Linked DNA regions of Homo sapiens. The protein of the gene in region 1 purifies or fractionates together with the protein of each later gene. This does not show direct contact. Each region holds a gene or a part of one and is shown in the gene's direction. Other genes may lie near its edges.

The links.
Region 2: the proteins of ASXL2 (region 1) and CPNE3 purify together in Homo sapiens (affinity purification with mass spectrometry, with the first as the bait; one study listed by BioGRID). This does not show direct contact.
Region 3: the proteins of ASXL2 (region 1) and KRT9 purify together in Homo sapiens (affinity purification with mass spectrometry, with the first as the bait; one study listed by BioGRID). This does not show direct contact.
Region 4: the proteins of ASXL2 (region 1) and NUDT21 purify together in Homo sapiens (affinity purification with mass spectrometry, with the first as the bait; one study listed by BioGRID). This does not show direct contact.
Region 5: the proteins of ASXL2 (region 1) and DYNC1I2 purify together in Homo sapiens (affinity purification with mass spectrometry, with the first as the bait; one study listed by BioGRID). This does not show direct contact.
Region 6: the proteins of ASXL2 (region 1) and MTX2 purify together in Homo sapiens (affinity purification with mass spectrometry, with the first as the bait; one study listed by BioGRID). This does not show direct contact.
Region 7: the proteins of ASXL2 (region 1) and CBS purify together in Homo sapiens (affinity purification with mass spectrometry, with the first as the bait; one study listed by BioGRID). This does not show direct contact.

Annotation. Positions count from the first base shown.
Region 1 is NC_000002.12:25,749,488-25,752,987, reverse strand, and holds part of ASXL2 (putative Polycomb group protein ASXL2), read left to right. Parts: intron 1-2,574; coding exon 2,575-3,292; intron 3,293-3,500.
Region 2 is NC_000008.11:86,559,435-86,561,998, forward strand, and holds the end of CPNE3 (copine-3), read left to right. Parts: 3' UTR 1-2,064; downstream 2,065-2,564. UniProt on the Homo sapiens protein: Calcium-dependent phospholipid-binding protein that plays a role in ERBB2-mediated tumor cell migration in response to growth factor heregulin stimulation.
Region 3 is NC_000017.11:41,569,260-41,573,331, reverse strand, and holds the start of KRT9 (keratin, type I cytoskeletal 9), read left to right. Parts: upstream 1-1,272; 5' UTR 1,273-1,339; coding exon 1,340-1,981; intron 1,982-3,111; coding exon 3,112-3,194; intron 3,195-3,316; coding exon 3,317-3,473; intron 3,474-3,744; coding exon 3,745-3,906; intron 3,907-4,072. UniProt on the Homo sapiens protein: May serve an important special function either in the mature palmar and plantar skin tissue or in the morphogenetic program of the formation of these tissues. Plays a role in keratin filament assembly.
Region 4 is NC_000016.10:56,444,833-56,448,332, reverse strand, and holds part of NUDT21 (cleavage and polyadenylation specificity factor subunit 5), read left to right. Parts: intron 1-343; coding exon 344-544; intron 545-1,643; coding exon 1,644-1,707; intron 1,708-3,500. UniProt on the Homo sapiens protein: Component of the cleavage factor Im (CFIm) complex that functions as an activator of the pre-mRNA 3'-end cleavage and polyadenylation processing required for the maturation of pre-mRNA into functional mRNAs.
Region 5 is NC_000002.12:171,739,469-171,742,968, forward strand, and holds part of DYNC1I2 (cytoplasmic dynein 1 intermediate chain 2), read left to right. Parts: intron 1-3,500. UniProt on the Homo sapiens protein: Acts as one of several non-catalytic accessory components of the cytoplasmic dynein 1 complex that are thought to be involved in linking dynein to cargos and to adapter proteins that regulate dynein function.
Region 6 is NC_000002.12:176,275,942-176,279,441, forward strand, and holds part of MTX2 (metaxin-2), read left to right. Parts: intron 1-3,500. UniProt on the Homo sapiens protein: Involved in transport of proteins into the mitochondrion.
Region 7 is NC_000021.9:43,073,036-43,077,138, reverse strand, and holds the start of CBS (cystathionine beta-synthase), read left to right. Parts: upstream 1-1,303; 5' UTR 1,304-1,369; exon of another isoform or gene 1,370-2,636; intron 2,637-3,797; 5' UTR 3,798-3,873; intron 3,874-4,103. UniProt on the Homo sapiens protein: Hydro-lyase catalyzing the first step of the transsulfuration pathway, where the hydroxyl group of L-serine is displaced by L-homocysteine in a beta-replacement reaction to form L-cystathionine, the precursor of L-cysteine.

The DNA of each region.
Region 1 (3,500 bases):
CTCAAAAAAAAAAAAATACATTTCTAAAAAAACTTTGAATTAAGAGTCCCTTTCTTTGAAAAGATTGGTTTTTCTTCTGGTTACTTTATAAGATAGAAGAATATTGAAGTTCTTTAGTTCTTTTTTTTTTTTTTCTTTTTTTGAGACAGAGTTTCACTCTTGTCGCCCAGGCTGGAGTACAGTGGCGCAATCTCAGACTCACTGCAACCTGTGCCTTCTGGTTTCAAGCAATTCTGCCTCAGCCTCCTGAGTAGCTGGGATTACAGGCGTGTACCACCACACCTGGCAAATTTTGTATTTTTAGTGGAGTTGGGGTTTCACCATGTTGGCCAGGCTGGTCTCGAACTCCTGACTTCAGGTGATCTGCCCTCCTCGGCCTCCCAAAGTGCTGGGATTACAGGTATGAGCCACCACTCCGAGCCAGAATACTGAGGTTCTGTCCACTTTTTATAGTAGTTAATTATCCCAAAATGTAGCTATCCAGAATCACTAAGGAATCTTAGGAATTTTGTAATGTGGACTATTAGAACCAACCTGTAATTAAAGAGCCTCTCCTCTGTAAAAGGCACTCTGGGAGATGTACATAGCTGAATCAAGATATAAATTCTGTTTAAAAGAGGCTGTAGCCTAAATCAGTTTTTCCCCCCCAACAAAAGATCCAACAGTGAAATTATAATGGGACATTTAAATAGATGGTAATGGAGATGTTCTGTTTGAAATAGGATTGAACACTTGGACTCCTACTTGTTAGTCTCCCTTCCTTCCTTCTGCACACCAATGGCAGCCCTTAAGAAGACCCGTAACCACAGCTTGAAAACTAAGTTCTCCTTTTCCTTGTCTCCAAGTAGTATTTATCCATCTCCTTCACAGTCATTTAGGAAATATTCCTATTGAGATTAAGAGTTCCATAAACTGCGGCCAGTTGCGGTGGCTCACACCTGTAATCTCAGTGCTTTGGGAGGCTGAGGTGGGCGGATCACTTGAGCCCAGGAATTCGAGACCAACTTGGGCAACATGGCAAAACCACATCTCTAAAAAAAATACCAAAAAATTAGCTGGGTGTAGTGGTGCGTACCTGTAGACCCAGGCTCAGGTGGAAGAATCGTTTAAACCTGGGAGGCGGAGGTTGCAGTGACCAAGATTACGCCATTGCACTCCAGCCTGGGCGACGAAGTGAGACCTTGTCTCAAAAAAAAAAAGAGTTCTATAAACTGATTTTTCTATATTTTTGGTATGAGCATTGAGCTATAGAAGTGATGTTTGGTACATTTAGACCATTATTGCAGGTAGCAGTAATTCTACAAATATTTGTTCATTCCCTCCTTTTTTTTCTCTTTTTCTTTTTTTTTTTTCAAAGACAGGGTCCCACTCTGTCCCTCAGGCTGGAGTGCAGTGGCACAATCACGGTTCACTGTAGCCTTAATCTCCCGGGCTTAGGCAGTCCTTCCACCTCAGCCTCCTGAGTAGCTGGGACTCCAGGTGCATGCCACCACACCCAGCTAATTATTGTATTTTTTGTAGGAGTGGGGTTTTGCCCTGTTGCACAGGCTGGTTTCAAACCCCTGTGCTCAAGCGATCTGCCCACCTCCCAAAGTGCTGGGATTACAGGCATGAGCCACTGTGCCTGGCCCATTCCCTCCTTCTTAAGCAGATAGAGGATTACAACAGTTCGTGGGTCTTTCTATTTTCAACTATTACTTTTTGTCAGCTTTTATAGAAAGACTGTTTTTGATTATTGCCCAGTTTTGTCCCTAACCATTCCATCTCAGAAGCACAGTACTGACTCTTTGAAGTCACCAAAGAAGGCTCATTGATTTTACATGTTGTACAGTATTCTAAAACATTAAGAAGAGTCACTAATGACCTTTACAGATTAGCCTAGCTTTTAGCCAAGCCACATTATGGATATCTCAATGGAACTATACCCTCAGAATAGCTTAGAGACACTCGATCTCAGAATTTTAGAGCTAAACCAAGTGGGATTTAAATGGGCTTTCCAAAACTCAGCTATAATTCTCAGCCTCTATAGAACATTGACAGCCAGCTGTCTCCTCAGGTCCTCTTAGATTTTTTGGGCCTGGGTTTGCACAGATATTGCAGAGAAGAGTTGACCACAATCACAGGGTGGAAGGGTCTTGGGCTTCCTTCAGTTCCCTTGCAGGTAGTCTGTGATGCATGCGTCCAGACAATGTGGCCCCTCTATAAGCAGAAGTAATAATAACTACTATTACTGAACTTTCATTATGTGTTAGGCAAGTACTTTATATGGATTAACTTAATTATCATAGCAACACTATGAAGTAATTAAACCTAGTGTACAATTGAAGAAACTGAAGTAAAGAAGGCTAGTCATTTACTTAATATCACACGGACGGTAGGTATCAGAGCCAGAATTTGAATCCAGGCACTCTGACTCCAGAACTTTCACTACTACTAATAGTGAAGATAATACATGAATACCTGCTGTGTCAGGGGTTCTCCTAGGCATTGTCATCTTCCATTATCTCTATTAATGAATGCTTTCGCAACATGGGCTATTTTTCAACTGGAATATTTCTTTTTTCCCCTTTTTAGTTCTGGCCTGAGCCTTGAAGATTCTAAGAAATTGACAGCTTCTCCCAGTGATCCCAAAGTAAAGAAAACCCCAGCTGAACAACCAAAATCCATGCCTGTGTCAGAGGCCTCTCTTATCAGAATAGTTCCAGTAGTCTCCCAGTCAGAGTGTAAAGAAGAAGCATTGCAAATGTCATCACCAGGCAGAAAAGAAGAGTGTGAAAGCCAAGGTGAAGTGCAGCCGAACTTCTCCACATCTTCAGAGCCCCTGCTTTCCTCAGCTCTCAATACACATGAGCTTAGCAGCATTCTTCCCATCAAGTGCCCAAAGGATGAGGATCTCTTGGAGCAGAAGCCAGTCACCTCTGCTGAACAGGAATCTGAGAAGAACCATCTCACCACAGCTTCTAATTATAACAAAAGTGAAAGCCAAGAATCTTTAGTTACATCGCCAAGCAAACCCAAGAGTCCTGGGGTTGAAAAACCAATAGTGAAGCCCACAGCAGGAGCGGGTCCACAGGAGACTAATATGAAAGAACCTCTAGCAACTCTTGTTGATCAGAGCCCAGAAAGCCTCAAGAGGAAGTCTTCCCTCACCCAAGAAGAGGCCCCTGTGAGCTGGGAGAAGAGGCCACGTGTCACTGAGAATCGCCAGCACCAGCAGCCATTTCAGGTCTCACCACAGCCCTTTCTCAATAGAGGGGACAGAATCCAGGTGCGAAAAGTACCACCTCTCAAGGTAAGAGAATGGAGAGAATTAGAAAAGCAGAGATCGTCTGAACCCTATGTTTTTGGTCATACCTACTAAATTTCAAGTAAATTGTGGTAGTTCTTAATGCAGAAGCAGTTGGATATATTTGATAAATATGTAACTATGGTCTTACACAAATAAAATGATAGATGGGCATTTAGAACTGCAGTCCTACATACAGGTCTTTACTGATGTT
Region 2 (2,564 bases), on another chromosome or scaffold:
TTAAGAACCATTTTCATCTGATTTTTAAACTCACGATACCAGTTATCTGTTAATCAAAATTGCATTTTACAATTTAATAATGTGATATTTCCTATGTCTACAGCATACCTTATTAGGTATAAAACCTACTGCAACTTAGAAAAAGGAAAGAAAAAAGAAAACTTTTCCAACTGCTGCATTAAGATAGGGTGGATTTTATGTGCTTTTTTTTTTTAAGAGTTGAATTTCTTTTCCTGACTTTTACCTTTTACAGCGTATTACTTAGTGAACATTACATTTTCAGAATAGATCCTAATATTTTATTGAGGGCCTATGTGCTAAAAACTATGCATATCTATATATTGGCCAATTATCTTTAATAATTTACCTTTTGAAATTGCATGTTTATCATATATCCTTAAGTGGACACATACAGTGCCATGTTGATGTGCCTCTCAGTTTTATTGAAAAGCTGCCCCACAGCCCATGTCTCTTGTTCTCTGCAATGCCTCAAGGGAGTGAGCTCTCAACCACAGATAGCTGTGGCTTCTCAGAAGCAGCTCATTGCCAAGGCCAGGCTGAGAGGGGACCTGCTTGCTGTGGTGGTTGCCTAGCCCAGATGAGCATTTACCTACCACCTTCCCACTTGGCTAGCTGTCCTTTGGATATGTGCTGTTAACTGGGGAAGGCATCTAACTAGTAGCCTGCTACTCCATAGTATGGCTCAATAGATGACACATCATTTTGACATTATCAATAGGAGAAAAGAAAACTAACCCTTCTTCTGATTGTTTGGAGCCATAGTTGTCTCAGATGTTCTAATTCTCTTTGTATGCTTGGAAACAGCATAGATATGTTGCTGTGGTTTTCAGAATTTTCTCTTTTAATCACAAGAAGCCTTTTAAAAAATGACTTACACATATTCTCAATGTACAGTAAAACAGACAGAAGTGAGCTTATCTGTTTGATGCTGTGGCAGGGTCCCAGTCACTGGGCATATCCTCCTTCTCCTTAACCAGCTCCACAGCAGCCCCTGAGTCACCTGCACAAGGTGCTTGGGAACTGCTGGTTATGAGCATTCCTGGTTTTCTTCAGCCAAATAACAGGTAATCACTGTCAATTGGATTTGGTCTTCATTATTTTATATTCTGATTTTATCAGAATTATTCTATTTTAAAATTGTTTTAAAATTTAAAACATTTAATTCATGATCATGTTCATCAGTAGATGCTATTATTCATAAGAACTGTGATTCCAGCAAACTAGGGTAATTGGTGCCTTTTTACAGTTTTGAATAAAAGCATTTACAATTTCTAAATTATCAGTTTTCACAGTTTCAGCACTCAACCTCATCATACGCTGATTTAATATTGTTTTACATTAAAATAGTCCTTTTCCCTGTTGTGCCACCATTCATTTAAGTGCTGTTTGTTCTTAAAATGCATTTAAAGAAAAATTACCCATATTGACTTTCACACCTCATATAATCAGATCTATTACAAATATATATCGGAGTGACGGTGCCCAGGATAGATGTAATATTTCTTACAGATGCTGGCACAGAGGAAATAATATACCAGCTAATCTAGTCACCTAACCTTGTGGTTAGAATTGCAATTTTAAGACCAGAAAAATTTGAAGTCTGATCAGAGATTTACAACTGTTCATTATAGTGGTGCCTTAGGCAATCTTTCCAAAGTAAATTCAGGGCCCCATTGCTACTTATGCCATATTTGGACATACTTTTTTTTTCTTCAATTTTGTAAACTTCCTGGAAAGCTGTCTTCACTAAGTATCCCCTAGTCTCTATATATGTGGTTAGTAGTCATGGAAATGACACATAAAGTACGCCAGAAGTTTGATGGAACGTGTTAGAAACTGTTTTGTGCTTTTATGGATGTCATACTTGACAATACATGTGTAAGTTACTAATATATGAATTGATGCTAAATATATCTTACATTTGAATTCCTTTTGGATAAAGTTATTTCTTGATGTGACAGAGTAGTGTGTTTTCATTTTTATTCTTTACATGTGACCAAAACAATAGAAAAGTTAAAAATAAAATATAGTGTTTTAGGTGGCCTTTGACTTCATATTTTACTGAATTAAACAATTTGGGGGATATTATTTTATGGGATTTATTTGTTTAAAAGATATTGAGTGGGTCCAAGATACTCTTCTGGGTACAGTAAAGGAAAGATTCTTAGCTTATAGCTAGAATGGCCTGAGATTATCAATCATGTTAAGAAGGATAGTGTAACCACCTAATTTTAAAAAAAATGTTTTAATTGCTTTTGTCATGGGCATTGGGCAGGACTTTGCCAGTGGTAACCAAGACAGCCACGATTGCTGCCTTTGTAGAAATAATGGTCTAGTGGGGGAGAGAAAACATTGAGCAAGTAATTATAGAGATGTGAGATCTGTGCGTGAAACAACATACAGTAGAGAGAGACCTAACCCATCTGAGAGGCAAGGAGCACTTCCCTGAGGATGTGCCATGTAAGCTAAGACCTGAAAGTTAGCTAGGTGAAGAAGGTTAAAAGCACTTATGAAGCTGTCAGGCCAACAGCAAGTATAGAGTT
Region 3 (4,072 bases), on another chromosome or scaffold:
ACTGGTGAAGTGATGTTGTCAGACATGGATTAGAAAGGTCATTCTGGCTGCTGTGCAGGAAGAGTCAGAGGGAATGGGAGAGGCAGGGAGGGCAGTTAGAAGCTCATGGCTAAGGTCTGGGTGAGGGCAGAGTTGACGGGGAGTTAGGGGGCTGAATGATCAGAGGCAGCCGAACATTTTTTGAGCACTTCTCACAAGTCTCTTACTAGGAGATGGACAAACTACTCATATCAACCTTTTTCAAAGGAGGAAACTGAGGCACAGAGTATTTAAGTAACTTATCAAAGTCACACAGCTCATGAGCATGGAGCTGGATGGAGCTCAGGTAGGCACACCGGAGACCAGCGTGTTCTTTACCATTCTCTTCTGGCCTTGGTGACCAGAATATACATCCAAGTTTCTGCCAGGAGCAGGGATAAGTCACACATCTCTGTATCCCCTCCAGAGTTCTGTATGGGGTAGGCACTCAACCAAGGTCAATTCCACACTCCCTGCTGGGCCCTGCAAAAGGACCAGGACAGTCGAGCCACTTGCATTCCTGCTCAGAGGTCAGCTAGTGTCAGCACCACCTTGTTTATTTGGTCCACTTTCTTCTTCCAGCCCTTTGTGTGAACTCTGCACGCTGTCCTTTAGTGCTGGCGGGCATGGTCTCGGTGCCCGTCTCCATCTTTTGGCCATGCCAGTTGCCTCCTCATCAAACTGGAGTCTCCCAAGGGCAGAGCCTCAGACTCTGCAGAAAGCCTCGAGGATCCTGAGAGCAAGGATTGGTTTTCATCCATTTGGGGCTCCACAAGGGCAGGGGCTGTGCCTCCCCCTCCTCTATGATAACTCCTTAGTACCCTAGTTCCAGCTCAGCTCACAGTGGGCACAAGGTGGGAGCAAGGAGGCATGAGGGATGCAGACAGTAATGACCATCAATAGAGGAGGTGACTCTGCTCTTGGGAGTTTCTATCCCGAAGGGGCTAAGTCTCAGACCTGCTGTTGGGGCCAGCCAGAGACCAGACTCCAGGATCTAGGTCACCCCTGTGGCAGTACAGCTGATTTATGGTGGCCCTGACAGCCTAATGTCATCAAATTATCCCACACAATGGAGAGAGGCTGGGCCGCCCCCAGGCAGTCACCAAAGGACGCTGAGCCTGGGGCAGCCCGGCTGCCTCCGTATCCCAGACCTCCCTCGGGTCTGTGGGGGGAGGCTGGCACAGAACAAGGGCACACCCAGGCGTGCCACCTTCAGCTGGGGGTATAAGTAGGCAGCCCCAGGGACAGCTCTGTACCCTGCACTTGGGAGCCGGTAGCACTCCTATCACTGCTTCTCAACCCGTGAGCTACCAGCTGTGTCATGAGCTGCAGACAGTTCTCCTCGTCCTACTTGAGCCGCAGCGGCGGGGGTGGCGGGGGCGGCCTGGGCAGCGGGGGCAGCATAAGGTCTTCCTACAGCCGCTTCAGCTCCTCAGGGGGCGGTGGAGGAGGGGGCCGATTCAGCTCTTCTAGTGGCTATGGTGGGGGAAGCTCTCGTGTCTGTGGGAGGGGAGGCGGTGGCAGTTTTGGCTACAGCTACGGCGGAGGATCTGGGGGTGGTTTTAGTGCCAGTAGTTTAGGCGGTGGCTTTGGGGGTGGTTCCAGAGGTTTTGGTGGTGCTTCTGGAGGAGGCTATAGTAGTTCTGGGGGTTTTGGAGGTGGCTTTGGTGGTGGTTCTGGAGGTGGCTTTGGTGGTGGCTATGGGAGTGGGTTTGGGGGGTTTGGGGGCTTTGGAGGTGGTGCTGGAGGAGGTGATGGTGGTATTCTGACTGCTAATGAGAAGAGCACCATGCAGGAACTCAATTCTCGGCTGGCCTCTTACTTGGATAAGGTGCAGGCTCTAGAGGAGGCCAACAACGACCTGGAGAATAAGATCCAGGATTGGTACGACAAGAAGGGACCTGCTGCTATCCAGAAGAACTACTCCCCTTATTATAACACTATTGATGATCTCAAGGACCAGGTAGGTGCAGGAAACTGTCTCTGTCTTGGTCTCTTTCTCTTTCATTCTTTATCTTCCAAAAAAGTTAAAATGCTAAACTCTAAGCTCAGATAATAGCCAGGGAATCCACCTTTTGGAAATGTACGCTTTCATCAGAAACAAACTTGTGTTTGGTTTCTGGGGATCCCAGGATAGGACTTTGGCCTGTGCTCTGAGTGTTCACTTCCATTTCCTCAACTTTCAGAGTTTGGGCAGAGCAGAGAGGAGACCTGGGTTAACGTGAGCTGAGCTGGGACTGGATGTGGAACCTCCTTTAGGTTTGGTCTAAGTCAATACTTTCTCTTCCTTTGTACTTCTCCTGGGCTTCTTTAGGAGTGTATCTTGATCTTTTAAGGTATTTTGGACCTGACTGTACATGTTGGTTATTCAAGTGTTGGAGAGGATCCAGAAATCTGGGAATGGAAGCTATCTATCCATCCATCCTTCCATCTATCCCTTCCTCCCTCCACCCACATGTCTATCTATCTATCCATTTATTCAGCCACTCAGTTCAGTGAGTGCCTACCCTCAGGGTTGCTCTGGGTAGACATAGTGATGTGCTAGACCTAGTTCTGGTGGAGCTCACGGTCTGGCTCTTCAGTATTCTCAGTGATTCCTCTTGTTTTAACTCCTGCATGTCTCTGAATGTGCTGTTTCTTCTACTCTAAACCTCTTCCATTTATTTATTAATGTTACATCTTAGCCATCCTTCAGGGCCCAATTCAATTGCCAGCCACCTCCTTCCTGAAGTCTTTCTTGATCTCCCATTGCCATAAGCCACCTCTCCTTTCCTTGAACTCTTTTAGGACACTTTTGACTTTGTAGTCAATGGTGGGCTCCCTGAGGAACAGGATGTCAGTAATCTCTAAATCCTACAATGCCCTTTGCAGTAGATCTTCAAATATTTGTTGAATGAATGAATGAAGGCCACACCAAACATCTTCGCTGAAGGCTGGAAGGGGTCTGTGCCATGTCCCAGCTGTTGGAAGTTCCTCATTCCTCTTGAGAATCTTCCTGGATGGAATCCTCACCTCCTGTGGCTTTGCCTGGCCTCTTGCCCTCTCAGCAGTGGTCCACAGCATGATATCATGGCTGTGTCCTTTTTTTTTCAGATTGTGGACCTGACAGTGGGCAACAACAAAACTCTCCTGGACATTGACAACACTCGCATGACACTGGATGACTTCAGGATAAAGTGAGTCCTGCTCCTCTTCTCCTCTCCTGTCATCAGCCCTTACCCCTGAACCTCAGTGCTCTGGAGGTCCTGGTAGGGCCTGGTTCCCTCTTGATTGTTTTCTAACCCTGGCTGGTCTGCAGGTTTGAGATGGAGCAAAACCTGCGGCAAGGAGTGGATGCTGACATCAATGGCCTGCGGCAGGTGCTGGACAATCTGACCATGGAGAAGTCTGACCTGGAGATGCAGTATGAGACTCTGCAGGAGGAGCTGATGGCCCTCAAGAAGAATCATAAGGAGGTAGGTTGCTGGGGCTTATGGCTTACCGGGAAGAGGGAGGAGCAGAAATGCAGAGACAGCAGGGGAGCTTTGGAACATTACCTGGGAGACACCCTCTCCTTTGCTCTTGAGGACACTTTCAACTTCTCCTTGGCATCACCTATGGTAGTGGTTGGGCTTTGGCTTCACAACTGTGTCCCCTTTTTGTACCCTGGGGGGACCAGAGGGAGAATTCTGAAAGGTGGTGCAGAGGACTTTATCCGTGACCTCATCTCCCCTTCTTCCCTGGCAGGAGATGAGTCAGCTGACTGGGCAGAACAGTGGAGATGTCAATGTGGAGATAAACGTTGCTCCTGGCAAAGATCTCACCAAGACCCTCAATGACATGCGTCAGGAGTATGAGCAGCTCATTGCTAAGAACAGAAAGGACATCGAGAATCAATATGAGACTCAGGTGAGCAGAGTGGGCTGCCCATTCATCCTCCTCCCCTCCATCTATTCCTATCTCCATCCCTCCCACCTCCCATTCCTTCATCCTCCTATCTCTGCATCTCTCAGTGCAGCTGTCATTTATCCATCTTCCAATGGAAGTCATTCATCCATCTTCATTCACTGCATAC
Region 4 (3,500 bases), on another chromosome or scaffold:
TTATTAGCCAAATTGGTAATGTTGAAATAGCAGCCATGGTATAAAACCAGAGGATTACTAATGTTCAGATAACCATTTCTCTAAGCATTTAAGGATAGTGTTATCTACACTTGAAAGTTAAAGTATGGAGGAGCAGCTTGATCTAATGGAAGCTCTGGCTTTAAGAGTCCAGAGAGCAAGATTCCAGTCTCTGCTGTTTCATTAACTTTAGTTAACTGTACAAATCCTGTGTCTGAGTACAATATATGCACTTTTTTTGTACCATGGTTTCTTTATGCTAATGTCTGTCATGGTAAATTACATTCTTCAGTTCTCATGTTAGATGTTTGTCTTCGGATCACAGGTACCCTCTTACCAATTATACTTTTGGTACAAAAGAGCCCCTCTACGAGAAGGACAGCTCTGTTGCAGCCAGATTTCAGCGCATGAGGGAAGAATTTGATAAAATTGGAATGAGGAGGACTGTAGAAGGGGTTCTGATTGTACATGAGCACCGGCTACCCCATGTGTTACTGCTGCAGCTGGGAACAACTTTCTTCAAACTGTAAGTAGTGTTGGAAATTAACAGCAAGACAGTTTTTAGTAGGATTGCTGTTTATGCAGCTCTGGAATACAATTTTAGCCCTCGGTCATTCATTTCAACAAACACTGCTGTTAATGATGTCTTTAGAAAGAGAAAATCATGAGTAATTTTTCTCCATTGCAGTGCTCATTTATTTTCCTAACTAGTAATCTGTATGTTTCTGTATGTTGTTGATGTTAATGATTGAGCTTGGTAGAAACCCCATGGAATAGTTGAGTCCAAGATCAATGTCTAGATGTCATTGTAGCATTACCAAGAACAATTGATATTTCTTTCTTGGTATGATTAGCATTTCCTGTTCTTAAGATGACTTAGGTTTTTGTGGATAACAGTTTAGTGTTTTATCATTTAAGCTCCTACATCTCTCAAACATTTGATCCGTAACTATTTGACTAGATTATACCAAAAAGAAAAGTCTCCAATACTTAGATGACGTTCTTGAAAAAGTTTCCCATTCTTTAGGCCTAAAGAATGTGATCCATTCCTCTCTGAGCATTTCTAGACTCCATTATCATCAGATAGCTCCCAGAGAGGAGATTGGGATGGACTGGTGGTTAGCAATTTTGTTTATGTTTGTGCTATGTTATATATTCTGTTTGTTTAAAACTAGGGTTTATGTGATGGGTACATATGGACATAAAGTTGGAAAAAATAAACACTGTATACTCCAAAGGTGGGGAGGGTGAGGGGGAGGCGAGGGTTGAAATACTTCCTATTGGATGTTATGTTCACTGTTTCAGTGATGGGTTCACTAGAAGCCTAAACCTTAGCATTACACAATATACCTATGTAACAAACTTGTACATGTACCCGTTGAATCTACAATAAAATAAAAATAAATATATACGAAGAGGAAAAAAACCTAGGGTTTGTATACTGTTAGTCTGGGGAATTGACATGAATTCAAGCATATTCTCCCCCTTCACTTTGATACTTGTTTTGATTGCCTTATTATGCTGAAATATGTTCTTAGTGACTTGGTAGAAATAACAATTATTGTGTTATTTGTTATCTCCAAATTGTATTAAGTTGAAAGCTGAAATTCTTAACTTTTATACAGACCTGGTGGTGAACTTAACCCAGGAGAAGATGAAGTTGAAGGACTAAAACGCTTAATGACAGAGGTATTTTTCTGTTTAACCACTTTGAATACCATCAACTTACTAGTTATTTGGCTTTTAATGTCTTGTAAAAAGGATGCTTATTTTGGAATATTTAGTTTTCAATAAATACAACTTAAACTCCAGAAGGTTAGTACAATGTTGATTTTTTTTTACAAGTTGAAGTTACACTTATTTCAATTTTTAAAATGTTAAACTGTGTCACAGCAATGGTAAATTAAAACTGACATTTAAGTATTACTGTGCTAGACACTGTTCTGAGTGCTTTACATGCGCTAATTCCTTTAATCACCACCACAACTGTAGGAAGTAGATATTATTAAGTTTAAATTACTTCTTGTTATATAGCTAGTGTGTTGTAGAGCCAGAGGTTTGAATGCAGGTAGTTTTGTTCAAGAGTAGGCCTCTATAGAATTTTGAAAAGAGAAAGATGCCTGTGTTTTCACTTTTTTCACATATTTTTTAGACTTTGCCCAAATTATTCTACTTTTTAAAAATCATTGTAATGCCTGCATGTAAAGACTTGGGGCCAAATGCATAGATACTGAGGATTTTGAGATTGTAAATTGTTTTCAATGTTAGTTTTCTTCTTTAACATTCAATTGCCGCCTGCCCCTGTTACAAAGCTCATATATTCTCTGTGCAAAAAGCTTGGCAAACACAGAAAAGCAAAGGAGAAACAAAACTAAAGTCACCCGTAATTCTCCCACTTTTGACCTATTGGTTTGTCTTTCTAGTATTTCTAAAAATGTATTATAACTCTTAAACATTTTCCTGTGCTTGGACTTCCATTTATATAATGTATGGTACAAAGATATAAGTCCATTAAGGTTGAGGGAGTGCAAAATGAGAGAATCACAAAAGCAAAATTTTTGGAAACTGGAAAACAGATGGGCAAATTATAACTAACTTAGCAGAAACCTTAGTCCAGCAGACAGGCAGGCAGAATCTAGCATTGCAGAGTACCAGAATGACTGAGGAACTGAAGGTGCTAGGTACTTATGAAAGTGGGGGCATGCATGGGCTGAAAACTGGACTGGTTCAAAGTATATATGGAGTATATTTATACAGGTTGTGTATTCCTTATCTGAGAGCTTGGGACCAGAAGTGTTTAGCTGCTATTTGATAGCACAACAGGGTGACTATAGTCAATAATCACTTAATTGTAAATTTAAAAATAACTAAAAGAGTATAATTGGATTGTTTGTAGCACAAAGGATAAATGCTTGAGGGGGTGGATATCCCATTCTCCATGATGTGAATATTACGCATTGCATGCCTGTATCAAAACATCTTGTGTACTCAAAAAAATTAAAAATTAAAAAAGTGGTTAGGATTTGGGATTTTTTTCAGGTTTTGGAATATTTGCATTATACTTACCAGTTAAGCATCCCATATACAAAACTTGAAATGCTCCAATGAGCATTTCCTTTTTTTTTTTCTTGAGACGAAGTCTCTCTCTTGTCACCCAGGCTGGAGTGCAATGGTGCAATCTTGTCTCACTGTCACCTCCGCCTCCCGGGTTTAAGCGATTCTCCGGCCTCAGCCTCCCGAGTAGATGGGATTAAAGGTGCCTGCCTCCACGCCCAGCTAATTTTTGTATTTTTAGTAGAGACAGGGTTTCACCATGTTGACCAGGCTGGTCTAGAACTCCTAACCTCAGGTGATCTGCCTGTCTTGGCCTTCCAAAGTGCTGGGATTACAGGCATGAGCCACCACGCCCGGCCTGAGCATGTCCTGTGAGCATCATGTCAGTGCTCAAAAAGTTTGAGATTTTGGAGTTTCAGATTGGGATG
Region 5 (3,500 bases), about 150 Mb from region 1:
AAAATCAAGCCTATACATACCATTTCAACTATAAATATTCATTATGTATTTCTAAAAAATAAAACCTCTTTAAAAAATACTACCATATCATTATTAAATGCCCCAAAATGAACATTGGCTCCTTATTTTCGTCAAATGGCCTATCAGTGTTCAATTTTTTTTTTCTTTTTACTATTTATTTGAAGCAGGATCCAAAGGAGGGCCATCCATTTGCGATTGACATATCTCTTTTTTTTTTTTTTTTTTTTTTTTTTTGAGACCGAATCTCACTCTGTTGCCCAGGCTGGAGTGCAGTGGCACGATCTTGGCTCACTGCAACCTCTGTCTCCTGGGTTCAAGTGATTCTTATGCCTCAGCCTCCTGAGTAGCTGGGATCACAGGCGCCCGCCACCATGCCTGGCTAATTTTTATATTTTTTGTAGAGACAGGGTTTCACCATGTTGGCCAGGCTGGTCTCAAACTCCTGGCCTCAAGTGATCCGCCTGCCTCAGCCCTCCTCGGCTTTCCAAAGTCCTGGGATTTTGAGCCACCAAGCCCAGCCACAATTGACATACCTTTTAAGTTCCTCTTTAAAGTAGGGCTTGCATCCCTCTTTTTTTTCTTGCTGTTTTATTCTTGAGGAAGAAACCAGGTTGGTGTCTGTCAAGTTGGTCCTGTAGGGTTTCTCAGTCTCGATTTTGCATTCCTGTGGTGTCATTCATATTAATGTGTGTGGTTGCAGATAGTTTATGTTTCTGTAATGAGACGTTTACCCTCATAAATGATTTGGTTATCCACCAGACCTTACGTTAACGTCTCTTCAGTCTTTTTGGTCATCTGAAGCTCATTCTATAGTACGTGATGCAGAAGGTGCCCACAGGTGCATTATTCCCATATTCCACAAAAGTACATGATTATGAAGATTAGTTTGATTGTTTATAAAATCCATGACTTACGTTTTCTTTCTTTGCATACCTTAGTTACTCTGTGGACTTCTGGAAAAAAGCATTGCTGTCACAAAATCTGATCACAATCTGATTTTCTTTTTCCTACTTGCGATTTGGTCTTTTTAAAAAATGTGGGTGATCAAATGATTTTTTCCCTTTTCTTTAGAGGGTCAGTGTTCCTAGATACACAGGATATCCTTTCAATATGTAGTTTCAAGCTGTCTTTCATTTTAGGAGAGTTCTTTTGAGTTGTTTTTGGTATTTGTTCTGTATTACTGCTTTGGTTTTCTTCTTCAGGACCTGCCATTGTAGATGTACTTTTGCTGATCTTCTTTATCACTTTTTTTTTTAGATCACCTTATCTCTTCTTTTAAAATAAGTTTCTTTTTAAGTAACAGTTTTATTGAGCAAAACCCTTATACCATGAAATTCACCCTTTTAAAGTATACAATTCAGTGGTTCTTAGTATATTCACAGAGGCACGCCTAATTGCCAGTATCTAATTTTAGAACATTTTCAAATTTTAGAAAGAAAAATTATGCCCATTAGCAGTCACTCCACATTCTCCCCTACCCCCACAGCTCCTGGAAACCACTAATCAATCTACTTTCTATCTCTTTGGGTCTGCCTGTTATGGACAGTTCATGGACATTTCATGGAATCTTGCAATTGTGTACTGGCTTCTCTCACTTTGCATAATGTTTTCAAGGGTCATCCTTCATATTGATACTTCTTGTATCAATGTATTGTTCCTTTTATAGCTGAATGATACCCCATTGTATAGATATACCACTTTTTGTTTATACATTCATCAGATGAACACTTCAGTTGCTTCTGCTTTTTGGCTATTATGAATCATGCTGCTGTGAATGTGCAAGTTTTTATTTCTCTCGGGTATATACCTAGGAGTGGGATTGTTGGGTCACATGGTAACTAATTAGCATTTTGAGGAGCTGCCAAACTGTTTTTCAAGTGGCAGCACCATTTTACATTCCCCAGCAAGGTATGAAGGTTCTGATTTCCTGTATCTTCACCAACATTTGTTACTTTTTTATACTAGCTATCCTAGTGGTATGAAGTGATACCTCATTGTGGTTTTGATTTGCATTCCTCTCACGACTAATGATGTTGAACATCTTTTCATGTACTTATAGGCTATTGTAAGCACTGTGGACACAGTGATGTATCAGATACATGGTTTGCAAATATTTTCTCCCATTGTGTAGGTTCTCTTTTCACTTTCTTGATATCATTTGAAGCCCAAAAGTATTTAATTTTGATGTAGCTCAGTTTACCTACTTTTTCTTTTATCATTGTGCTTTTGGCTTCTCAACTGAGAAATCATTGCTGAGTTCAAGGTCACAAAGATTTACTTGTATGCTTCCTTTAAGAGTTTCATAGTTTTGGCCAGGCACGGTGGCTCACGCTTGTAATCCTAGCACTTTGGGAGGCCGAGGTGGGTGGATCACCTGAGGTCAGGAGTTCAAGATCAGCCTGGCCAACATGGTGAAACCCCTTCTCTACTAAAAATACAAAAATTAGCTGAGCATGGTGGTGCACGCCTGTAATCCCAGCTACTTGGGAGGCTGAGGCAGGAGAATCGCATGAACCCAGTGAGCTGAGATCATGCCACTGCACTCCAACCTGGGCGACAGAGCGAGACGCGGTCTCAGAAAAAAAAAAAAAAAAAGTTTCATAGTTTTACTTTCCATTTAGATCTGTGATACATTTAATTTTTCTATATGATGTAAGGAAGGAGGGATCCAACTTTATTTTTTTTATTTTTTTATTTTTTGAGACAAGGTCTCACTCCCATCGCCTAGGCTGGAGTGCAGTGGTGTGATTTCAGCTCACTGCAGCCTCGACATCCTGGGCTCAAACCATCCACCCATCTCAGCCCCCAGGGTGGCTGAGACTATAGGTGCATGCCACCATGCTCAGCTAATTTTTGTATTTTTTGTGGAGATGGGGTTTTGCCATGTTGCCAAGCTGGTCTCAAACTCCTGAGCTCATGTGATCCACCCACCTTGGCTTCTCAAAGTGCTGGGATTACAGGCATGAGCCATGGCACCTGGGCCAGCTTTATTCTTTTGCATATGTATATCTAGTTTTCCCAGCACCATTTCTTGAAAAGACTATTCCTTTCCTATCTAATTTTCTTGACACCACAATAACTTTTATGGAATCTGACTGAGATCCTTTTCTTTGCTATTGTCTACTAGTGAAATGAATTTTTGTGTATTTTTAGGAGGGAGGGAATGGGCAAGGATAACTTTCCTAGTTCATTTTCTAGGTTAAAGCTGTCTCTTCTCTGGCTTTTGCAAAGTGAGAATACATGTACCTTGTGCTTTCTGAGATGTGCCTTTTCTGCTTCTCTCCACCACTTCTGTCTGAACTTACTGCTTTGTCTCTTTTGTCTGGCATTCTACAACTTGGATTCTACTCCCAGCAGTTTCTCTTCTGTGAGACTTTGTCTTGGAAAGGAACTTTGATTTGTTAATTTTGAGAGTTTATAGCACCCAGACTGTACCATGAGAACTTACTTATACTGCACTGTAGTCTGCTTGCATTTAC
Region 6 (3,500 bases), about 150 Mb from region 1:
TTACACTTTCTATGGATTTTGAAGTGAAAGGTCTAACCTGGGTTCTTATTCAGCTACTTCCTAGCTGTGTGAACTTGGGCAAATTAACTGCCTTTTTAAGCCTGAGATTTCTCATTTGTAAAATGGTGAAAATAATAATGTGTTACTTTAAAGATACAATTTTGGTAAAGCTTTAAAAATTTATTTGTAAATAACAGATAATTTAATTCAATAATATGAAGTATCTACATACAGTTATTGCAGTTATTAAAATTACTTAGTAATGTATCCTAGAATAATTTGTTATTCCAGGATGTTTATTTCAAGATATATACATTTGATATGCTCCAGCCATGTTTATTTTCATTATAAAATTGAATCTTGGTATAGGTCATATTGGCGGTCTGTTAATTAGAATTGCCATAGCTGGTTATTGATAATAAGAGTAAGCTTTTGAGCTACTGTGTTAAATGATTTATATACGTAATTGCTAATAATAACAATTTGGTCTTGTTAGGTATTTTGTGGATAAGAATACTGAAACTCAGTATAAAGGTTAGGAACAAGGTCATTGGAGTAAGAGCTGGAGTAAGCTCAACCCTGCTTCTTGTTGGCAGGCCTTTCTAGTCCTCAGTTTCCTCATTTGTAAAAGGGGATAATATATTTATAATGTATGTCAAGTATCTAGTATAGGGTGGTAGATAATAAATGTTCAGTACATGTTAGTTTCTATTGTTACTTTTATTGCCCAAGAGCCTTTCACCTTATAGTAAGGGGTCCTTTGAGGATATTAACTCTTAACATGTAGTATCCCATTACCATTTTGGACAGCAGAAAATGCCCAAAGTATTCTTACTTTTCTTTACTCATATACCATCTTTTCTGATTTATTACTCCACCGGTGCCTTGCCATATTTTAAGCACATCAGTTAGTTTCATCATACTATAATTTATTAATCTTTTGAAATAAGAACAATATCTGTTCTGTTCTTTATTTAGAAGCTCAGTAAACTATATAAAGGATGAAAAAAGAATGGTCGGAATATTCCATTTATCTCGTTGTGGGCATTTGGGTGCTTAATTATTTAAATTTATTAATAACTTCATTTAAGCAGTAGCATTAATTTATAGTATGAGCTAGGAAAGTAGTTTTGCAGCGTTCCATGGAACCCATATGTACGCATCTTGAAAGTGTGATTAAAACAGGTATGTTTTTAAAAATTTGTTTTTATATTGGTAATAAAGTGTTTTCATTCCATCCCTCCTCACATGAGTACTGGGGAATCTGGACTTGAAAAGCATTCAGAAGAGTTCCAGAGGCTAAAGGAAGTAGAAAATAAAGGTTTAAAGGCTTTTGTAATATAGAAGTGATGCTATTGCTCACAATGAAGAAAATGATGGTAAAGGCTTGTATATCCATGTATCAGAATATTTAATGATGACAGTTGCAACAGATAATTGAAGAAATACAATGCATTAAATTCATTTTTCTCTTTTTTGAGATGGAGTTGCGCTCTTGTTGCCCAGGCTGGAGTGCAGTGGTACAATCTTGGCTCACTGCAACCTCCGCCTCCTGGGTTCAAGTGATTCTCCTGCCTCAGACTCCTGAGTAGCTGGGATTACAGGCATGTGCCACCACACCTGGCTAATTTTGTATTTTTAGTAGAGACCGGGTTTCTCCACATTGTTCAGGCTGGTCTCGAACTCCCGACCTCAGGTGATCTGCCCACCCCGGCCTCCCAAAGTGCTGGGATTACAGGCGTGAGCCACCGTGCCCAGCCTTTAATCTTTTGCTCTTGAAAATAAAGATATTTTGTTATTTTTACTCAGTATTCTGAGGATTTTCCAGTATTGAGGAAGGCACTGAGGAATTATTAAAAAGTTATTGGACCGACCGTCACGTTTAAGAGAATTAAAAAAAAAACATATTAGTCATATGAATAATCTTACACAGTTGTGCTTATGACCTTGAAGATACGAAGCTGAGATTGAATGGTGCAGATGGTAAAGCAAAATAGTGACAAAATAGGTTATACTTCAGACTAGAGGCAAGATATAGTTTATTGACAGCAGTGGATCCTGTATTTTATTATACTGTATTGCTGAATAGGTTGAAACTGGTTTTTTTTTTTTTTTTTTTTTTTTTTTGAGATGGAGTCTTGCTCTGTTGCCCAGGCTGGAGTGCAGTGGGGTGATCTCAGCTCACTGCAACCTCTGCCTCCCAGGTTCAAGTGATTCTCCTGCCTCAGCCTCCCAAGTAGCTGGGATTATAGGTGCCCACCACCACACCTGGCTAATTTTTGTATTTTCAGTAAAGACGGGGTTTTACCATGTTGGCCAGGCTGGTCTTGAACTGCTGACCTTATGTGATCTGCCCGCCTCAGCCTCCCAAAGTGCTGGGATTATAGGTGTGAGCCACTGCACCTGGCCAAAACTAAATTCTTAACAGCAATATTATGTAAATTTTTGAAAACTTTGATAATAAGATCCCTTCAGAGGCTTGTTTTCTGCTAATGAAATAGTTCATAGGCTGTAATATGAGTTTTAATTTACTTAATGTGGTTTATTAACATTTTATACTCTGAAATTACATGATTTTTAGTTTTTAACTTAAAAGATTTTGGTGATGGGTGCCCCATAAAATTTGTCAGTCTTATTTCTTTGAAGACTTTTGAGTTATTAACGTTAGCCCAAGCTTGCCATATTTTGGTGAAAATTGAAAGAAAACGCCACCAAACTTTTTAATATTTTTCAAACATTTTTGAAGTTTCTTGATAAGCAGTTATCAGATGGACTGAAGATATCAAATAGAGATGAGATATTGAAAATTCAGGCTTCTCATTTTTTTTTCAAAGACAGAAGTTATAATATTCAGTAAATCCAGCTATAGACATTCATATATAGAAGTATTTGCCTTGCCAGTAAAAGGGATGCATGCTTTAATTTTTTATTGCTTTGTAAATGATCCTCTCCTCTATTCTTGAACACTTTTCTTATTTTTGTACGCTCTATAAATGAATTATGGTTTTGAACTTTTTTACATCAGTAATAAAAATGAAATTTGATTGGTTGGTAATAAAGAAGGTTCTTTTCATAAAAGCAATCATTTTGTCATGACAATTCTCGTTAACTGTAACTGTGTTGGCAAAATAGAAACCATAAAATGCATTTCACTGTTTTTATACACTTAGCTATGTTTTTTTGCTGATCATATATTTTATCTCTAAGAACTTGTATAAGCCAAAGAATTTCTTCATAACTTGATCTGTCTTTAGATGGAAAAAAATAGACTTTTGATGTGTATATTTATTACAGTGGATACAGTATCTTTGAGTATTACAATGGTATTTACCCCCACATCATATTTTATTACCTGGTCAATTTAGAGCACTAATCAGAACTTTATATGAATAAATTGTGTCATTTGTATAACATGAAGAGGCCATTATTATTCCAGTGTTTATTTCTGTAAAGTAATATTGGCAGCTGACTCAATGAACTAGCCTTCTTTTGACCTCCAT
Region 7 (4,103 bases), on another chromosome or scaffold:
TTCTTATAAAGACTGGACAGGATTTTTTTTTTTTTTTTTTTTTTTTTTTTTTTTTCTGGAGACAGTCTCGCTCAGTCGCACAGGCTGGAGGACAGTGGCGCGATCCCGGCCTCCAATGCCACCTTCCAGAGCCTTCATGATGTAACTCCATCCCTGTCCCCTCCCCACATCGCCGGCTTTATTGTTCTTCGTGTCAGTTCCTGCCAGTGGACATTTAATTCTAATTCACGTCTCACTCCCTCCCCTACTGTGAGCCCCACGTGGCAGAGACCGCGGCGGAGCTGCGCGGGCCGGAGGAGGCTGCGGAGCATCGCTCTGACCTGAGCCGGGGACGCTGCGGAGGCGCAGCACGTTCCTCTGCCCAGAGCTGATGGGCACCGTCCGTGTCTTTCGCTGCAGGTCCGGGGGGAGACTCGGGGGCCTGGGATCCCCCATTTAGCCATAGGGCGGGGGGATCAGGTTCAGCCTCTGAAAGTCCAGAGCACGATGTTTGGGAAACGGCCCCGCCCGCGGCCTCCGGGACCTGGCGAAGGAGCCCCGCGGGGCGCCCCTGCTACCACCCTGCGCGGAGTCGGCCCCGTCCCCGAGAGCGCCCGGCAGCCCCTGGCCGTGGGCCGCACCGGAGCCGCGCAAGGCGACTGTTCTGCGCCTCGGCTCGGGGTTCGGACCCGGCTCTGGGCGCGGTCACGCGGGGCGCTGCGCACGGCGTCCGGCGGCCACAGAGCGCGGCCATCGAGTCCCGCCCCGGCGCGGCGCCCCCTCCCGGGCCCGCGACACACGCCCTCGGGGTCGGTCCTCGAGGACGCGCAGGGCCCCCCACCCACCAGGACGCACGTTTCAAGCTCATCAGTAAAGGTTCCTTAAATTCCCGAAGGGCAAGAAGTTAACCAAGTAAAACAGCATCGGAACACCAGGTAGAAGACACCACCGGGGTCCGCGGGTGGGGGTGGCTGGAACCCGGGGCGGGCGGGCTCAGGCGAAGAGGAAGGCGGGGGAGGGGGCGGCGACCCGGGTCTGCGGTTGAATCAACAGGGCGTGGGAATGGGGCGGGCGGACTGGGGTGGGGGCATGCCGGGGTCCCGGGGAGGGCGGGGGTCGGGCAGGCCGGAGGGTCCCAGGCTGCGGCGGGGTGGGGAAGGGGTGGGGGGGAGGGGCCCGGGCTGGGTGGGGTGGAGGAGGGGCTGGGGGGGCGGGTGCTCTGCCACGAGACATTGGCCGGCGCCGGCCTCCGCCCCCGCCTCTCCGCCAATCACCGCCCGCCTGCTCCCCTCGCCGTGGGTCCCCGCGAGGCCGCCACCCCGGGGTCGCCGTCTCCGCCTCGCCGCAGTCGGGGCAGCCGCTCGCCCCTCTTTTCCATGTATCCGTCCAGGTGAGATCCGGCCCCACCGAGACTCGCTCCCCTCTCTGGACAGAGGATCTCAACTGGGTCCCGGTTTCCCTCTCCGCGCCTCCGCCCAGAGTTGCATCATCTGCACCGAAAGGCGGCGAGACAGGGTCTCCCAAGACCCCCGCCCCACCGGCGCCCACGCCTGCGGTCTTGACCGCCCAGAAGATGGGGGCTGGCCGTGCACGTGGCCCCGGGCTCCCACCCCAGCCCCCGCGCCGGCGGAGTGGACCCCACTGGCGGCGAGTCCTGGAGCGTGGAGCAGGGACGCGGGGTGGGAATCCGGGGGAGATGCACGTTTCGGTGCCCAGCATTGAGTTCGCTGCATTGTGGATGGGAAATGGCTGTTTGCAAATCGCCCTTTTTGGCGGACCGTGTGGGGTGGCGGTAAACGCTGTCGTTGCGCGGGCGGCACGCGAGGTGGGTGCCCGCTGGGGGAGGGACGCGGGGCTCTGCCCAGGTTGCGTTCGGGGGATGGAGGTTTTCCTGGGACCTCACTTCCCTGAGCCCCAGGCGAGACCGCAGCTGAGCTGTAGGATGCAAGCGGGAGGCGGAGCGTGGGTGGGAGAGCGGAGCGCGAAATTCTCGGCTTCCCGAGGATCTTCTGGGCTTACTTGTCCCCAGCTTTGTCCCAAAGTGTCGCTTCCGGAGGCGGAGTGGCCGGCGGTTTCCGGGTCTCAGTAGGGTCTGGATCTCCCACCTGGAAACCTAGAGGAGTTTCCCGCTCTCCGTGCGCGTGGCCTTCCCCAGGCCCCTCCGGGAGTGCTGGCGCGCGAGTGCAGGGGTGCCCCGGGAACGTCGTGACCCCAAGGGGGTCTTGTGGTTTAAGGAGCGAACGGAACCGGCCAGGCGATGCCAGCTGAACCCGCCTTCCCGGGACGCACGTGCATCCGGCCGCCCGGCGCTGTTGTCTTGGGGAGCCCGCGGGTTCGGGTCTGGGTCGCCTGGCGAGCTTTCCGCCGAGCGCCTCTGAGTTCTACAGAGCCCCGACGGCTTGCGATCTGCGTTCCCGGCAGTCCCTTACCTTGCGAGAGAGGGCTCCAGGGCGAGGCGAGGGGCCAAAAGCAAGGCGCTGGGCCGCCTGCGTCTGCCGGGGCCTCGGGTCCACGGCTTTCTGGAAGATTCGGCGGCGGAGCATGCGCGCCCCAGGCCAGACAGGGCCTGTGCCAGACGGAGAGTCCCTTCCCGTAGGTGACTCCCGCGACCCGCGGAGGAAGGTGCTGCTCCGCTCACGGCGGCGGCTTCTTACAAGGTTGGGATAGAAAGAAAAGCGTGGGACACGAACCTCTGAAAGCGGGTGCATTTTTCTGGGGAAGAGAAGATCCAACGCCTTCGGATTTTCAGACAAGTCCGTGGTCCCAAGACCTTGAAAGCACCACCCTCCAGGGTCGTTTGAAGCCGCTTTGGCCCCCAGTCTGGTGAATTGCAAAGGTGGAGGGGAGGCTGGGAAGTCCAGGAGGCCAAGCTGAGGCCTGGGTAGGGCCTGTGCGCAGAGACCACCTGAACAGCATACTCCAAGGGCTTCCAAAGGCAGCCGGCTTCCGCAACTTTTTCTTTTTTAATAGGCTTTTTAAAAAAAAAGCAGTTTTAGGCCGGGCGGGGTGGCTCACTCCTATAATCCCAGCACTTTGAGAGGCTAGGCGGGCGAATCACCTGAGGTCAGGAGTTCGAGACCAGCCTGGCCAACATGGTGAAACTTCGTCTCTACTAAAAATACAAAAATTAGCCGGATGTGGTGGCGGGCGTCTGTAATCCTACTCAGGAGGCTGAGACAGGAGAACTGCTTGAACCCGGGAGGTGGAGGTTGCAGTGAGCCGAGATCGCACCACTGCTCCAGCCTGGGCAACAAGAGGGAGACTCCGTCTCGAAAATTTAAAAAAGAGCAGTTTTAGATTTAGAAAAATTGAAAAAATAGATAGAGTTCCCCCAGTTTCCCCTGTTATTAAGATCTTAAACTGATGTCGTATATTTGTTACTTTATTTATTTTCTTTTATTTTTATTTTTATTTTTATTTTTTGAGACGGAGTCTCGCTCTGTTGCCAGGCTGGAGTGCAGTGGCGCGATCTCGGCTCACTGACCTCCCCCTCCCGGGTTCAAGCGATTCTCCTGCCTCAGCTTCCCGAGTAGCTGGGACTACAGGTGTGCGCCACCATGCTTGGCTAATTTTTGTAGTTTTAGTAGAAACGGGGTTTCACCATGTTGGCCAGGATGGTCTCGATCTCTTGACCTCATGATCCGCCCGCCTCGGCCTCCCAAAGTGCTGGGATTACAGGCGTGAGCCACCGCGCCCGGCCTATTTGTTACAATTAATGAGCCAATTCCACGATCACATAACCATTGTTGACATTAACCAAAGTCCGCGCTTGAGTCAGATTTGCAGAGTTTTCTCCTCACTGCCCTTTTCTATTCCAGGATCCCATGACAGATTCTGTTGTCACGTCTCCTTACAGAGTTTGAGCGGTGCTGAACTGTCAGCACCATCTGTCCGGTGAGTGACGGCTGTGGACTTAGTCTTCCTGTTGAATGTGGGGAATCAAAGGAGGGTGAAGCGGGGCTGAGCCCAGTCCTGGGCCCTCTGAAGAAGGCAAGGTGGGAGGTGGTCGTGGGTTCCTTGTCCCCCCAGAGGAGGGGCAGCAGATGGGACCTCGCCTGGCTTTCTTTTTGCTTTCTTCTTTTTTTTTTCTGTCTCATCTATTTCAGGTGCGTGTGTGTGTTTTT